Linked DNA regions of Homo sapiens: region 1 is linked to region 2. Evidence: fine-mapped QTL for protein levels in blood plasma. A gene starts in region 2. The other region holds a variant in brackets. All regions are shown on one strand. Distances are from middle to middle.

The links. A credible set is the group of variants that fine-mapping cannot tell apart. PIP is the posterior inclusion probability: the model's chance that the variant is causal. The UK Biobank Pharma Proteomics Project read protein levels with antibody pairs (Olink). The fine-mapping took linkage between variants from a reference panel, not from the people measured, so its PIPs are less certain.
Region 1: its variant is the best candidate, but not a certain one, in a credible set for the plasma level of the CSF2RB protein (UK Biobank, PIP 0.56).

The regions. Positions count from the first base shown.
Region 1 is chr22:36,922,476-36,930,475 of GRCh38, forward strand. It overlaps CSF2RB (colony stimulating factor 2 receptor subunit beta), which reads left to right. Exons shown (of 14, transcript NM_000395.3): 3 at 769-892; 4 at 3,512-3,702; 5 at 6,927-7,084; 6 at 7,164-7,332; 7 at 7,900-8,000. LOC105373023 (a long non-coding RNA gene) reads right to left here and starts at 3,468. Exons shown (of 2, transcript XR_938230.2): 1 at 3,275-3,468. RefSeq lists enhancers at 1-383, 3,029-4,228. The variant G/A (reference allele first, on the strand shown) is at 4,811.
Region 2 is chr22:36,909,043-36,917,566 of GRCh38, forward strand. CSF2RB (colony stimulating factor 2 receptor subunit beta) reads left to right here and starts at 4,586. Exons shown (of 14, transcript NM_000395.3): 1 at 4,586-4,635. RefSeq lists an enhancer at 2,419-3,120.

The DNA.
Region 1 (8,000 bases), 13 kb after region 2:
GAAAGTCCAGCTGAGCGTGTCTGGCTTCCTTGCCCACATTTCTCAGGGCGGCACTCCCGGCCCCTAGGCTCCAGGATGGCTGCTCTGGCCGTTTCCCTGCCCCTCCTTCCCCAGCAGACACTCTCTGTGCCTCAGTGGTTCCCACCTCCGGGACTTTGCTCCTGCAGGGCCTTGGCTGGGGTTCTCTCCCTGCTTCAGCCGCTAGCACCCTCCTTGTGCCTGAAGCCCGCACTGGGATGCTCCTGGGCTCTTGAGGTGAAATGGCCCCTCCCAAGGGCTCCCAGAGACCTGGCTTCTGTGATAATGCTGGGACCACAGTCCCCTTAACAAATACCAGGCTCCTGAGGACGGGGACTAGAGAGGAGGTGGGAGGTTGCAGGGTAGAACTCTGCCACGCTGCATCCCAGGGCTGAGTGTGTGCCCCCTCCCAGGCTGCACAGTCGGTCCAGGGGCCAGGCCTGTGCTTGATGCATGTCCCTGTCCTGGGGTGGGGGGAGGGGACCGTGCCCAGGAACAGCACACTGCGGAGGCCCAGAAACCATGCTGAGAACCAACAGAATGTCTTGCTTCTGCCAGGAGAGGAGGGTCCGCAACCAGGAGCCCACCCCGGCAGACATGAACACATGTACATGTGCCTGGCCACCTGGTGCCTCTGCAGGGACCTGGGAGACCCCTCCCCAGAGCGGGACATCCCAAAGCAGCTGGGGGTGATGGTGACAAGGGTCCCTGCAGGAAAGAGAGGTGACCCCCTTCTACCCCTCTTGTCAGAAACCATCCCGCTGCAGACCCTGCGCTGCTACAACGACTACACCAGCCACATCACCTGCAGGTGGGCAGACACCCAGGATGCCCAGCGGCTCGTCAACGTGACCCTCATTCGCCGGGTGAATGAGTGAGTGATGCTGGGGGCAGGGGCCACGGGCAGGGGCTACGACGTCCCCTGTGCCTGGCATGGGGCGACAGTGTAGAGAGGGACCTGTCAGGTCAGCCTCGGGGTGGGAGTGGACAGAGGACAGAGGAGGAGGGAGGCCCTGCAAGAGCTCCTGCTCCGCCAGGCACCTGCGAGGCCGGGTGCTGCCGTCTGACCTGGGGTTTCTGCGGAGTGCCTCCTACACTGATGTTGGTGACAATGGTGGTGGTGGCAATGGTGAAAATCTTCTCTTGTTTCATCACAATTTAACACAATTGCCCCACATGACCTATCTTAGTTCCTCCTCACTGTGAGGTGGGCAGGGCCAGGCCACGAAGCCCCAGCTGTGCCACTGCCTGCCTGTCCAGAGTAGACCAAGGAGAGATGGCGCTAGCCTGGGAGTTCACAGATGGGAAAACTGAGGCCCTGGAGGTGAGGTGCCAGCCCTGGCCACGGGGTAGACAGTGGCAGAGCAAGCTGTGTGGACGTGTCTGGGAGGGGGCTCCGCGCTCTCCCAGGCCCCCCCTCCGTATGTGGGCTGCCACCTCTCCCACCCAAGCTCTCCTGGGCACGTGCCACAAGGGAAGGGGACCAGAATCGCTCTGGGGTGTTGGCCAGGGTCTAAATCAGCCATAAATTAAGTAATTAAATAGCTGGAACCAGAGAGGCAGATGACAACCCATTGGAGGTCACCCCAGCGTTGGGGGGCGGGGCCGGCTCTGCCACCCCCACCCCTCCACCGCCTTCAGTTCTCCAGGGCGTCTCTGTCGGACCTTCTCCATTCTCCTCAAAGACCATCCTGCCCCTCCCTGTGACCTGCTTCCTGCTGCTCTGACACAACAGGGGACCAGGGAGAAGCTCCCCACCCACCCCACACTCACACTCCCCACCCCCTTTGCCCACCGCCGGGGCCTGGGCCTGGACCAGGGCTCCTGTCTGAGGCCTGAGACACGATGCTGTCTGGTCCTGTTGCTCAGGAACATCACGGCCCCCAAGTCCCCACTCTGCCCTGTGCCACCCACCATGCCCTCTCCCAGGATCTTTCCCAATTGCCTTGCAAACCTGCCCCAACCCCCTCTCAGATGCCCACAGGAGTGCAGCGCCTGGGCATCTCCTGACCTGGCAACCCTGCGGCCCCTCTTTCTCTGCTTCCTTTGACAGCAGCATTCCCTAAAGAGTTGTCCACATTCACCACGTCCAGTGTCTTTCCAGCCATTTCCTCCTGGGCCCACTCCCCTAGGATGCTGCCCCCACCAGGCCACCCAAACTGCTCTGGTCCAAGTCAGCAAATGTCCCAGGGAGCAGGATCTCATGGTTGGGCCTCCGCCTTCTTCCTACTTGACCAGGGGCAGCCCCTGACAAGGAGGACCACCGCGGCCTCCCTGCAGTTTCTCTTGCACCTGACTCTGCCCACAGCTCACCCAGTGCCCCCGGGGCCCTGCCCATCCTCCTCTTTCTCCTTGTCTGCTGCCTCCTGATGGCAAGACACCCAGGCCCAGTCCATGGACCTCCTCTCTGCTGTATCCACTCTGCAGAGACCCCCTCAGGCCCCTGGGGCATCTCCCAAAGGTGACCTCAAGCCCACAATTCCCCTAAGCTCCAGCCCTCCAGGCGTACTGGCCTCTCCACCTGTCACTTAGACAACAGGTGTCTCCGACTCCAAACGTCCTCAACCAAAGTCCCGCTCTCACCCGAGCTGCGCTGCTGCCTCTGTCTTCCCCATCTCCCTTTCTAAATGGGAGCTCCTAGTGGCTCAAACTAAACAACAGGGAGGATTTTGTTTTGTTTTTAAGTCTCTTTTGTCACCATTCCTTCCTGACTGCTACATCCCTCCACCAGCAAATGCTGCCAACCTTATCTCAAGCAGAACATGAATCTCACCCACGCCAGCCTGACCACCCTGTTGCACGCCACTTCCTGTCACCTGAATATTCCAGAAGCCTCGTAACTGGGCTCCCTGCTTCCAACATTGCCACATTCCCACCTCAGTCTATTCGCAACCGAGGACCCTCAGGAATCCTTTCAAAGCATTTATCAAAATCTACAACACCTCTGCTCATGACTGTTTCCCACTCACTCGCAGTGAGATCCAATCCCATCATGTAGATGGATGGGTCTCCTAGACCTCCCTATCACACGCTCTACTCCCTGCGCACTGGTTTTAGGCCAAGCCACGCAGCACACCAAACTCTGCCTGTCCCAGGGCCTTTGCACGTGCTGTTCCCATTTCCTGAAATCCTCACAATTTGCACAGTCCCTCCCTCAATGCCTTTAACATTCTGCCCCCAGGTCACCTCCTTAGAGAAGCCTGCTTGTCCCATATTTCAAATTGCCTCCCTGGCCCAGCCCTTCCTCCCTCCTCACCTGCTTCTTGCTTTATTTTTCCACATGAAGTTCTCTCCACTGCACACGCTACACACTTTGTTCCATGCGGGTCCCCTTCTCCCAGGATGGCAGCTCCGTGGGCAGGATTTTTGTGTGTTTTATCACTGCTGGCCCCTGATTCTGAACAGAGCCAGGCATGTGGTGAGCACTCGAGGAACCTTTCGTGAGTCAGTGATACCCATACACCCTGGGCTAAGCCGTGTCCTCTCCCAACAGGGACCTCCTGGAGCCAGTGTCCTGTGACCTCAGTGATGACATGCCCTGGTCAGCCTGCCCCCATCCCCGCTGCGTGCCCAGGAGATGTGTCATTCCCTGCCAGAGTTTTGTCGTCACTGACGTTGACTACTTCTCATTCCAACCAGACAGGCCTCTGGGCACCCGGCTCACCGTCACTCTGACCCAGCATGGTGAGGGGCTGGGGGCCCTGCCCGGGGCTTGGTTTCCTGTGTGGACAGCGGGGGCACCAGGGGTGGTCCAGGGAGTCTTCAAGGCAGAAGGCTGTGGCTTGGGGTTGGGTGAGGGTTTCTTGAGGGATGAGGGTATGGTCTGGTTACATGGAGACTTCAGAGCAGAGGGGCCCCTGACAAAGGCTTCTCCTGTGCCCCTGGCTGCTACCACCTCCCACTAAGCCATGGGCTTCCAGCACTGCAGGCTTGTCTTGAAGAAAACCGTTCTCACCACTCACTTAGAAACCTACCAAGTTAGAAAACTCTGTCCGCTTAGTTGTTTCATCTCATCTCTGAAGCAACCCATTTCCTGGATGTGGCCCTTGAGGCCCAGGAGGTCAGATGCCTCCTCTGAAGTCCCACAGCTGAGCAGTAATGACAGAGATGGGGTCAGCCTTCCCGGGGGCTTCCTGCATGGTAGACAGGGAGCTTGTCTCCTCGCTGCCCTGGAGGAGGGGCCCCGGTGTGGGCCGAAATCCCACAGTGGTCCATGAAGCCATCTGTGGTCTAGGGTGGGGTAGATGATTATTTTATGTAGTTAGGTTTTATTTGCCTCTATATTAGAAAGAAATATAACCTGCACTTCGAAGTCCTGGATTCAAGGAAATGGTTGCTTAGAATGAAGCTAAACCTGAAAAGGGACACGTTTTATGAAAGTTTTCGTTGACGTGGCAAAAACCCATGCTGGTGGCAGGCTGGTAGGAGGTACTGCAGGCTGTCATTGGGAGTCTCAGAACCACGGCAGGCTTGGTGCTGTTATTGGTGCCTTTGGCTGCTGCTGAAACGGAGACAGAGGGAGGTGACTAGTCCAAGGCCTCTCTACTGCTGCTGGCAGAGCTGAGATCCAGTGCAGGATGGTCTGAGTCCCCGGTCCTAACCACCGAACCACCTGGTGCTCTTTGCAAGGGTCACACGGAAGGGGCTCTGACCATGGCTTCCTGCCCTTTTTTGCCACAACATCATAAAGCCACTGCCAGAGGAGGGGATCAGTTAGGCCACCAGGAGTCCATCAGAAGCAACATTTCCACACATGGGTTTGATGGACACGAGAGTCCCTTCCTTCCCGAAT[G/A]GAGCTCAGGGGGCCCAGGCTGGAGGGAGGGGAAACACTGTATGCCGTCCACCGTGAGAACTTACTGACAGTGGCGGGTGGGTGCCTCATGCAGGGGGTAAAGGGCAGGGCCCCTGGGAGATCAGAACAGGCTTCCCAGAGGGAAGAGCTTTGCAACTCAGATCTGAAGGGTAGACAGGAGGGGAGGGCAGTAAGAGCCTCTCTGGCAGGGTAACAGCTGTGCAGAGGCTGGGGGATCAGAAGGGCATGGGCAGCTGGGGAACCTGCTCACCATTGTGTCCAGGGAGCATCAGCTTCAAGGGCTGGACAGCGGTGGGAAGAAGCAGGAGACACAGGTAAGGACCTGTCCCTGGAGAGGCTTCTGTCTCCTGCAGTCTCAGGTAGAGGGGACCCTCTAGGCATGGAGAGCACTGAGGGGAAATGACATGATCAGATGTGGATGTGAGAATGCTGGGGACAGGGGACTTACAGGGTAGATTGGAGGAGCATTAGTTGGGAAAGAAGTTGAAATTCAGGCTGTGGCCTAAAGCACTCATTCCTAGAAATGATGAGGACACAACTGGCTAGGAGATGGGGACATGAGGGCATGCAAATCATAGTTCAGATATACACACAATTCATTCATTCAACCTTCTTTCCTTGAGCGCCTACATAAGCCAACGAAGCAGTCAACAAACCAGCCAGCAACCCTGCCCTTGGAGCTTACAGCCTGGAAACAAGGAAGGTTTCTAAGGCGATGGAGACAACTTAGATATAGGGAGAGAAGTGTGGCCCTTGGCCTCCTGGAGCCTGTGTTGAGTAGCGAGGTAGGGTCCAGCCTAATGCAGATTAGCAATGAATCAAGGATGCTGGGAGGTACTGGGCAGGCGACAGGCATGCATCTGATCTGCTCTGAGTCTCCATGTTTGGAGACCTTGGACATTTTACTTCCTCTATGAGTTTCTCCGTCTGTGAAATGAGCTGGTGGACTCAAGAGGTTTCTCTTGAGTTGGCTGAGCAGGTTTCTGATGGGGCTCCCAGTCTGCGCAGTTTGTGGCAGCTTCCGAGAGGGCTCTGCCGGGAAGAGCTCCCCCTCCATGACAGCCTCGGGGGCTGGGAGTGCAGTGACCCATGAGGGACGCCTGTCCTGGCTGTGGGTGAGGAGGGGCGGTTCCCCTGCTGTGTGTCTGCCGTTCTGGGTTGATGGTTCCTGACATGCTCTAGCATGCCATAACCCATGTCCAGCAGAGAGCACTTACATCCTATGTGTGAGGATGTTTTCGTTTGAAAGCCATCCCTCAGCAAGCAGACACCAGAAACCAGAAATCAGGTGCCGTGTCTTCATTCTGCATTTTCTTGAACAACCCAGAGTTCCCAGGAGATAGATGCTTGCCTTGTGGCTGCAAGGATTTCATGAGAAGCCCCAAAGTTGCTTACGCGTATTTGTTCATTCATTCACTCATTCACCTTGCCCCATAATTCACTGAGAAGCCGCATCTCAGCCTGGAGGTAGGGAAGGGGGTCAGGACCAATCCCACCCACCCCCATCTCCTCACACCTTAGGGGAGGCAGACACAGAAGCATAGGAATCCCTCAGCTGTGGTAAGGCCCTGGTGGAGGGAATTCCACTGAGCTATGGTGAAATGAGAGAAGGAATGAGGGATTCCGCCTGGAGATGCAGATCCGAGGATGTTCCTAGAGCCGGAGGCATTTGCCCGGGGCACTGACAACAGGAAGGACCCTGGGCAGGAGGAAGGGAGCTTGGACAGCAGGAGGGGGGAGGCCGCTGAACCGCAGGCCCCTCTGCTAGCAGGAGCCACCCAGGCCGCAGCGTGGGCAGTGGGGAGCCTCAGGACAGAGGAGGCTCCAATGAGTTTCCTCGCCAGCGCTTTTTATGGAGTTCGGGTCACGTGCGCATTGCAATCTGCACGGCTTTCCATTGCTTTCATGTTGAAACCCTACAGTTTTGCAGATGAAGGGCTGAGGCTCACAGAGGAGACGGGTCTTGCTCAAGGTCCCTCAGCTGCTGGGGGCAGGGGTGGCCTGGAACCCCCTGTGTCCACACAAAAGGCCATGCAGGCCCTGACTGCCCCCCAGCGGTCCAGCCCTTAGGTGCCCTTCACTTCCTCCCCTCCAGTCCAGCCTCCTGAGCCCAGGGACCTGCAGATCAGCACCGACCAGGACCACTTCCTGCTGACCTGGAGTGTGGCCCTTGGGAGTCCCCAGAGCCACTGGTTGTCCCCAGGGGATCTGGAGTTTGAGGTGGTCTACAAGCGGCTTCAGGACTCTTGGGAGGTAGGAACCACGGCCAGCTCTGCCCCAGCCCGAAGGGATGGGCAGCACCCCTCCTCCAGCACCCACTGTCTCCTGACAGGACGCAGCCATCCTCCTCTCCAACACCTCCCAGGCCACCCTGGGGCCAGAGCACCTCATGCCCAGCAGCACCTACGTGGCCCGAGTACGGACCCGCCTGGCCCCAGGTTCTCGGCTCTCAGGACGTCCCAGCAAGTGGAGCCCAGAGGTTTGCTGGGACTCCCAGCCAGGTAATGTTGCCAGAGCCCAGGAAATGCCCCGTGGTGGGAGGGCAGGCTCATCAGGAGCTCCTGGCACAGCAGGGTTCCTGGGCTCCACCTGGGGGCTTCCCAGATCTCCTGCTGCCATCTTTCCAGTAGCGTCCCTGGGCCGTCCCACCTCTACTGTGACCACTGACCAGTAGGACTCTGCATCTGTTCACTTTGGGTTTCCAGTTTTCTGCACGTTCTCTGCCAATGGCAATTACAATAATAACAACAACAGTGCTATTAGCAGCTGTGTGTTAATGGAGGCTACAGGATGCTCAGGGCTTACCCACATTTTTCAGTTCAATCCCCAAACACTGAAACTTAGATACTATTTCCATTCTCCCGGGAGGGCGTGCAGGTGCACAGAACTCTCTCTCTCTCTCTCGGAGCTGTTGGACACACAGCTGGCAGGTTCAGGCTGAAGTTTCAGCCCTGGTCTTTTGGCCCCAGAGCTCATGACCTCTGTGTGATGAATCACACGGTGGGCACCCACTGAGAGCTATGGGAGGGATGAATGACGGAGTACATGAGGACCTGTCTCCAACCCAGGGGATGAGGCCCAGCCCCAGAACCTGGAGTGCTTCTTTGACGGGGCCGCCGTGCTCAGCTGCTCCTGGGAGGTGAGGAAGGAGGTGGCCAGCTCGGTCTCC
Region 2 (8,524 bases):
TTTAGCATTTTAGAATAGTTTTTTCTAATTCTGTGAAAAATGATAATTCATATCCCAAACCACATGGTAAGTGTAGTACCCGGGTAGTTAGTTCTTCAATCCTTGCCTCTCTGCCTCACCCCTCTAAGTAGTTCCCTGTGTCTATTGTTGCCATCTTTATGCCCATTAGCACCCAATGTTTAGCTCCCACTTATAAGTGAAAATATACAGTATTTGGTTTTCTGTTCCTGCATTAATTTGCTTAGGATAATGGCTTCCAGCTGCATCTATGCTGCTGCAAAGGACATATTTCATTCTTTTTATGGCTGTGTAGTATTCCGTGGGTGTATATATACCGCATTTCCTTTATCCAGTCCACTGTTAACGGGCAACCAGGTTGATTCCATGTCTTTGCTATTGTGAATAGTGCCGCAATGAACATACGAGCACAGGTGTCTTTTTGGATATATACTCAGTAATGGGATTGCTGGGTCAAATGGTTGTTCTGCTTTAAGTTTTTTAAGAAATCTCCAAACTGCTTTCCACAATGGCTGAACTAATTTACATTCCTATCAATAGCATATAAGCATTTGCTTTTCTCTGCTGCCTCACCAGCGTCTATTGTTTTATGACTTTTTAATAATAGTCATTCCAACTGATGTGAGATAGCATCTCATTGTGGTTTTGATTTGCATCTCTCTGATGATTAGTGATATTGAGCATTTTTCATATCTGTTGGCTGCTTGTATGTCTTCTTTGGAGAAGTGTCTGTTCATTTCTTTTGCCCACTTTTTATTGGGGTTATTTTATTTTATTTTATTTTTTGCTTGCTGAATTGCCTAAGTTCTGTACAGATTCTGAATATTAGACCCTTGCTGCATGCAGTGTGCGAATATTTTCTCCCATTCTGTAGGTTGTCTGTTTACTCTGTTGATAGTGTCCTTTGCTGTGCAGAAGCTTTTTAGTTTACTTAGGACCCACTTGTCAATTTTTGTTTATATTGCAATTGCTTTTAAGAACTTAGTCATAAATTTTTCCCCAAGAATGATGTCTAGAGTGGTGCTTCCTAGGTTTTCTTCTAGGATTCTTATAATTTGAGGTCCTACATTTAAACTTTTAATCCATCTTGAGTTAATTTTTGTATATGGTGAAAGGTAAGGGTCCAGTTTCATTCTTTTGTGTATGGCTGGCCAGCTATCGTATCACCATTTATTGAATAGGGAGTGCTTCCCCCATTGCTTATTTCTGTCAGCTTTGTTGAAGATCAGATGGCTGCGGGTATTCAGCTTTATTTCTGTGTTCCATTGGTCTATGTGTCTGTTTTTATACCAGTGCTATGCTGCTTCGATTATTGTAGCCTTAGTATAGTTTTAATTTGTGTAATGTGATGCCTCAGGCTTTGTTCTTTTGGCTCAGGATTGTTTTGGCTATTCGAGCTTTTTTTTGGTTCCATATGAATTTTAGAATAGTTTTTTCTAATTCTGTGAAAAATGACAGTGGTAGTTTGACAGGAATAGCATTGAGTTTGTGGAATGCTTTGGGTGTATGGCCATTGTAATGATACTGATTCTTCCAATCCATGAGCATGGAATGTTTTTCCAATTGTTTGTGTCATCTATGATGTCTTTTACCAGTGCTTTGTGGTTCTCCTTGTAGAGATCTTTTATGACCTTGCTTAGCTGCATTCCTAAGTATTTTATTTGTGTGTGTGTGTGTGTGACTATTGCAAATGGGATTGCATTCTTGATTTGGCTCTCAGCTTGAACTTTATTGGTGCACAGAAATACTACTGATTTGTGCACATTGATTTTGTTTCCAACTTTATAGAAGTTGTTCATCAGTTCCCGGGGACTTTTGGTGGAGTCTTTAGGGTTTTCTAGGTATAAAATCATATCATCAAGGAAGAGAGAAAGTTTGACTTCTTCTTTTCCTATTTGGATGTCTTTTATTTCTTTCTCTTGTTAGATTGCTCTGGCTAGGACTTCTGAATGACAGAATTTTTAAAAGTCACCATTTGGCAATGATCATCATGATAATGTTTAATTAAATTAAGGAACATCATTGCATACTGAAATTATACAAGTGTGGGAGTGGGATGAGAAAGCTTAAAAGTATCTCCCTACCAAATGCTTATAAATTACGATGTGGAAGGGGAAGTAACTTTACAATAGAGAAACTTGATTGGTGTCAAGTTAATCAAATGATCAGAGCGAACGACATTAGTGATGGGACAGATTGACAATGAAAGCTAATAGGACTCACCAAGAATAATCCAGCATCACTTCTGTGCTATTTTGGCCAAAAAAGCATAACCCAGTTCTAATCATCAGACAGAGCCAAATCGAGGGACATTATTCAAAACAACCAACCTGCAGTCTTCGAGATGTCGAGGAAAAAACAAGGCATCTGTTTCAAACTGGAGGCCCGAAAGACATGGCAACTAAGAGCCATGCATTTAGAGAGAATGCAAAGTCCCGGATGGATTTTCTTGTTACAAAACCATTATTGAGAAGCTTAGCGAAACTCAAAGGGGGTTTCCACATGAAGGGTATGTGAGAGTTCTTTGTATCATTCCTTTAACGCTCTGTATTTTGAAATAGTTTCAGAATAAAAATGGAAATGGAAAAAAATGCAATGTTAACATATACGAGTTACTACTTTCAACAAGTTATCTTCCTTTTCATGCCTCAATTTCTTCATCTGTAAGGTGAAGACAGTAACAGCTACATAAAGGTTATTGGGAAGAGATGGAGAAGCCCCCAGCCGAAGGTCTGCTCACAGCGTAAATGCTCAAGCCCTGGTCATTATGAGTACTACGTTCTTGCCAACATTTTCTTGGGTTTCTTAGTCTCTAAAAGATCGTCAATTGCAAGACACGGTATTTTACATACCACTGAAGGAAAAAACAAACAAACAAACGAAAACATTCAATGAATTCCTGACGGTGTGATTCTTCTCGCTTAGAACTTTTAATACTTATTGAGAGAACTCTGTTAGACTCATTCAAATGTAGATTTTTATCCCCTGCTGCTCTATGATGACTTTTAAAAGGAAAGGGTCAGTCAAGTGAATTGGCTGAGGTGTTCCTAAAGCTCCTTCACATTTTGGGTCTGGTGTCCGGAGTGATTTTGACTCAGAGTCTCGGGTTCTTCGTTTCTCCACCAGACAGCATCCTCTGTGCTCCTGAGGGCATCCAGGCCCGCAGCCTCCCAGTCCCACAGAGGACCTCAGCAAAGACAGGCAGAGTGGGGACACCTGGGAGAAAAGAGAGCCCGGGACGTCACTTTAATTCCATCCTCTCCAGCCCTGGAGAAGCCCCTGCAGGGTTTTTCCATGCCAGGCAGGGACCTCACACTGACCGGAGTGCCTGAGAGAACCACACATGCCTTCCTCTACCCTGGGCTTTCTCTGCTAGGGTGAGGCCCTGCCAGCTCTTCCTGGCCAACCCTGCCCTTCCTGGTAGGAGGAAAGCAAAGAACAACAATCAGGCCAGAATTCCAGTGGCTTCGAGGCAGGTTCCTGCCCCTCCATTTCCTCCATTCCCCTCATTCTTGCCCTCCATTCCCCTCATTCCTGCCTGCTGCCCTTTCTCCTGGGAGGCAGCCCCATGTAGGAGAAATATGACTGCGTTTTGTTGTGTCTTGGCACTGTGATTCATCTTGTCTTTATTCAAACTTTTCATATTTGGTTCACCGTGAATAGTTTCTGCATCAGTTGGGATTTTTTTAAACCATATTGCATTAAAATATTACTTACAACAATTACTGAATTTTTAAATGCCTGTTTAAATTTTGAGCACGAGAGACTGCCTCACTCACCTGACCTTAATTCTGCTGGCCCTGCTGTGCTCAGGGAGCCACTCATTCATTCATTCATTCATTCATTCATTCATTCATTCATCTATTCATTTGCACACAGTCAAAGGTGCAATTTCTCCTCTGTACCAGGCCATGTGCTAGGTATTTGGGAGGGAAGTGCAAGCCGGACACAAGCCAGCACTGAAGATAGTGTCAGAAGAAAGACAGCCATGAACACACATGACCATATGACACATGGTGGGGTGGGGCGGCAGGGCAAAGAGGACATCGGGGAAATCAACATGCCACCAGCTACCACTTGTAGGGGGTTCTCCTGTGGCCAGCTCTGAGCTAAGGTCTTCCTGCACAGAATCTCACTGGATTCCCTCAACAGTCCTTCCAGGTTTGTAGATGCTTCTGCAAAAGTAACAGACAGATGGATGTCCCGAGGCTTGGGGAAGTAACACGCAGATGATTTGCACAAGGACACGCTTTAAGAAGCAGTGGACTTGGAAGTCCAACACAGATCTGTCTGGCTCTGGGCTCAAACCAGCTATGGTTATTGCAGCCACTTCCACCTGCATCCCCATCAAGCAGTCAGGGAAGGCTGCATGGAGGAGGCCCTGCGTCAGCTGAGGCTTGAAGGAGGCCTAGGAGTTTATAGGAAGGTAAATTGGAGTAGGAGGCTTTCTGGAAGTAAGAAAAGTCACGTGCACTATTAGCAAAGTAGGCCTGGGCCGGCACTGCTTCCTCTTTCTGCTTCTCTGTTTCCTGATGACATCAACATAAATAGGAAACGTGGGAGGCTCACTCTGCCTAGAGGCTCCAGAAGAAGACTGGTCTCTCCCACCACACAGAGGTATGGCCCGGCGTCCAGGAGCAGGGCTGAGGGGTGGGGTCAGAGCAGGGGGGAATGTGGGGAGTCCAGGATGAAAAAGGACAGGGGGAGCCTGGGGGGCGTCCTGTGGGTAGCTGTGCCCTGGGGACTTGGAGGAGTTAGGGCTTGGCCTCTTAGGATGACCTGAGCCCAGACTCCTAGGGCGGCCAGTGGATGGGGAGGCAGCCAGGGGTGCCAAGCTGCTTGGGTGTTGTAGGAGAGCTCTGGGGAGGACTCAGCCTCGCTAGCGGGATCTGGTTGGTCCTGGTGGGAAGGACGCCTAGTGGGGTGAAGAGAGCTCAGGCCTGGGAGTCAGGCACCTATAGTCTGTCTTCGCTTTGTCACTAAGATGCTGGTGGTAGTGAGAGCACCCCCTGTCCACCCTGGGCTTCTGTCTCCTCATCTGTGGAATGGGGAGCATGGATAGTCCCTGACATCTTGGTTTAGAAAGAGAGAGAACGCATGCTCGTGTGTTTGCCCGTGTGTGCATTTGTGTGTGTGCCTGTGTGTGTATGTGCATGTGCGGATGTCTGGGGATGCAGGAGTGCAGAGAGACTAAGAGGCAGAGGGTGAAACCTGGAAGCTTGCTGCGCTGAGGCCCAGAGCTGGGTGCGGTGTGGCTTGAGAAGCTCACTTTGAACTTGAGAAAGAGCCCAGCACTTTGCCCAGAGACATACCAGGCACTATCCAGCAATCTCTCTCTCTCTCTCTCTCTCTCTCAGTCTCTCTCTCTGTCTGTCTGTCTTTTTAGTTATGACACTCTGCCCTGCTGATTTGGGTTGCTGATTTGGGTTGGGGCCCAGGTGTGTGTGTTCTGTACCCAAGTATGCTGGCTGGGTGGGTGGGTATCTGGGGTGCCTGCTTCAGGGTGTGTGCAGGTGTGTGTACTGGCCCTGAGAATGAAAGGGCAGGTGTTTCACTGGGACCTTGTCAGACAGGTGCTAGCGACAAGCTGCATATGTGCAATTTTTAGTCTTCAAAAACCCTGCTGTTATATTTTTGTACAGCCCAATTCTAATTTTTTTCTATCATCTTTCCTGCTTTGTAATCATTTTATAATGAGTAAACATTTCCTATTAGCTTTTGGTCACTCTTTTTTTCATCCAGCAGTTTTATTTATATTGTTCCAGTATACAGATATACCAACACCACAGGATAATTCATGAGTTGTATAAGGAATGTATTTAATGCTAAACAAGCAACTACACAGAAACCTACCTTCATGAAAATTAGAATAATCTAGAATTATGTAGCACAAGAGACAAAGTCCCCAGCAATTTCTTTTCCCTAGTTCCATAGCTTATTCTTTTCACCACATGTATTCTTCCAGAACATTTTCTAAGCATGATACAAGCATATAGTTTTTCTTTTCCTGTTTGTTTTTTGTTTTGTTTTGTTTTGTTTTTGTGACAGAGTTTTACTCTTGTCGCCCAGGCTGGAATGCAGTGGTGCAATCTTGGCTCACTGCAACCTCTGCCTCCCGGGTTCAGGTGATTCTCCTGCCTCAGCCTCCTGAGTAGCCGGGATTACAGGCATGAGCCACCACACGTGGCTAATTTTTGTATTTTTAGTAGAGACAGGGTTTCACCATATTGGCCAGGCTGGTCTCGAACTCCTGACCTCAGATGATCCGCCTGTCTCAGCCTCCCAAAATGCTGGGATTACAGGCTTGAGCCACTGTGCCAGGATGGTAGTTTTTCTTTTTACAGAAATGGGATTATTTTATTTATATATATATATATATATTCCTAATTTTTTCACTTAATATTGTATTTTGGAATATTTCCAAATTTCTACAATAATACATACAGATTTAACTCGTTAAGTAACCCTAAGAAATATGTGGCATTTATTAGGATGGGTACACCACAATTCATCTAATCTCACGTTGATCGACACCTAGATTGTTTCTAATTTTTCCACATCTGTGAAAGTGTTTCTGTAGCCTAAATTACTAAATGCAGAATTGCTGTGCAGAGGTTGTGCGTTAGAAATTATAATAGGTATTGTCAAATCAGCCTCAAAGTAGCTGAGCTAAGCTGACGTCCCCAAGGTAGTGCATAAAGGGTCCAATTTACCTTTAGAGAAATTATCAATCTTCTAATTTTGTCCAATATTATGTATGGAAATTCTCAATGTCGCGTGATTTTTTTCTTTCCCTGATTATGGGTGAAGTTGTACATTTTCTATATGTGGATTGGCCTTTTGGATTTCATTTATGATGAATGTGGAGAAATTTTTGTTCATCTCCTGTTGAATTCTCTTTTACATCTTAACTTTTGGAGTGACTCATTTATTACGTGTATTAATAATCCATTTATATATGTTGAAAATATATTCTCCCAGGTTATGACTTATCTTTTTCTTTACCATGTTTAAGATGTCTTATGTCATATAAAAATGTTTTCATTGTTAAGTCAAACCTGTCATTACTTTTTACTTTATGGTTTCTGATTTTGGTGTCTTGTAAACCTCTAAGATCACAGGTGTCTTGTAAACCTCTTTTTACTTTATGGTTTCTGGTTTGGTGTCTTGAAACCTCTAAGATTACAGAAAGAGTTTTAATAATTTTACTATTTTGGTTTTGACTTTGAGATTTTTAGCCCACCTAGAATTTAGAGAAGTGAGTAATGTGTAAAGTAACTTTTAAAAATAATTACCATCTAATTGTCTTAACATTGCTAATTATGAGTGTGTGATTTCTCCTCTCTTCAATGATTTGAAGTGCCCCTATTACATCCTAGGCTTCTATACATACTTCGTTATTTTCTTTATTGTTTTCTCTTCCATTTGGCTGTCACTACATTCCTTATTATTTTTCTAACGAATGGAGCAAGTCTCTCATCTCTGGTTTGTTATAATTTAGAATCAGTTTGCCAAGGCCAGGCACAGTGGCTCATGCCTATAATCCCAGCACTTTGGGAGGCTGAGGCAGGCAGATCCCTTGAAGTTGGACGTTCAAGACCAGCCTGGCCAACACGGTGAAACCCCATGTCTACTAAAAATACGAAAAATTAGCCGGGTTTGGTGGTGTGCACCTGTAATCCCAGCTACTTGGGATGCTGAAGTGGGAGAACTGCTTGAACCCAGGAGGCAAAGTTTGCAGTGAGCCGAGATCACGCCACTGCACTCCAGCCTGGGCAACAGAGTGAGACTCCAACTCAAAAATAAAAATAAAAATCAGTTTGCCAAGCCCATTAAATTCCTTTTTGGAATTTTCATGTTGATTGCATTGAATTTAGAGATGATCTGAGGGACATTGACCACTGGAAGTAAAGACAATAGTGAGAGCCTCCTGTGTGAGGCTTTGACAGGAGGACACTAACGTGCCCCCTTGACTCTGTCATCGCCTTTGGTTTCTGGCAGACTTTCAGTGATGCCAACGTTTCCGCCACTGCTTCATTTGCCAGGGTTTGTTTGTTCATTTAACCAGAAATGTCTTGTTTATTATTAAATATTTAGGAGTGTCTGTCAAGATCAGCTTATCCTTTTTTCCCTTTTAATCCGTTCATCTGTTTGTTTGAATCATAAATAGGTTTCTTAAGGGTTCTCCTTCCATGTATGGAGTACCCTCTACTTGGCCATGATGTCTTCTTCTTTTAAAAGTCTTTGTCAGGTTGACCTATGAAATTGTTTTTGTCTGGAGTGAATTTGTATTTTGCTTTTCCCCCCTAGTTTTTATCCCTGCCATTCAATTTCTTCATAAGCTTGGGAATGTTTATCCCTGCCATTCAATTTCTTCATGAGCTTGGGAATGTAATATGTGCATGTTTATTTTGAGTAAGAAGGTGTTTGGTTTTTCTCTTCTCTTTTCTCTCTCTTCCTTTCTCTGTCCCTCCCATCCCTTCTCTGTCATCCTCCTGTCCCCATG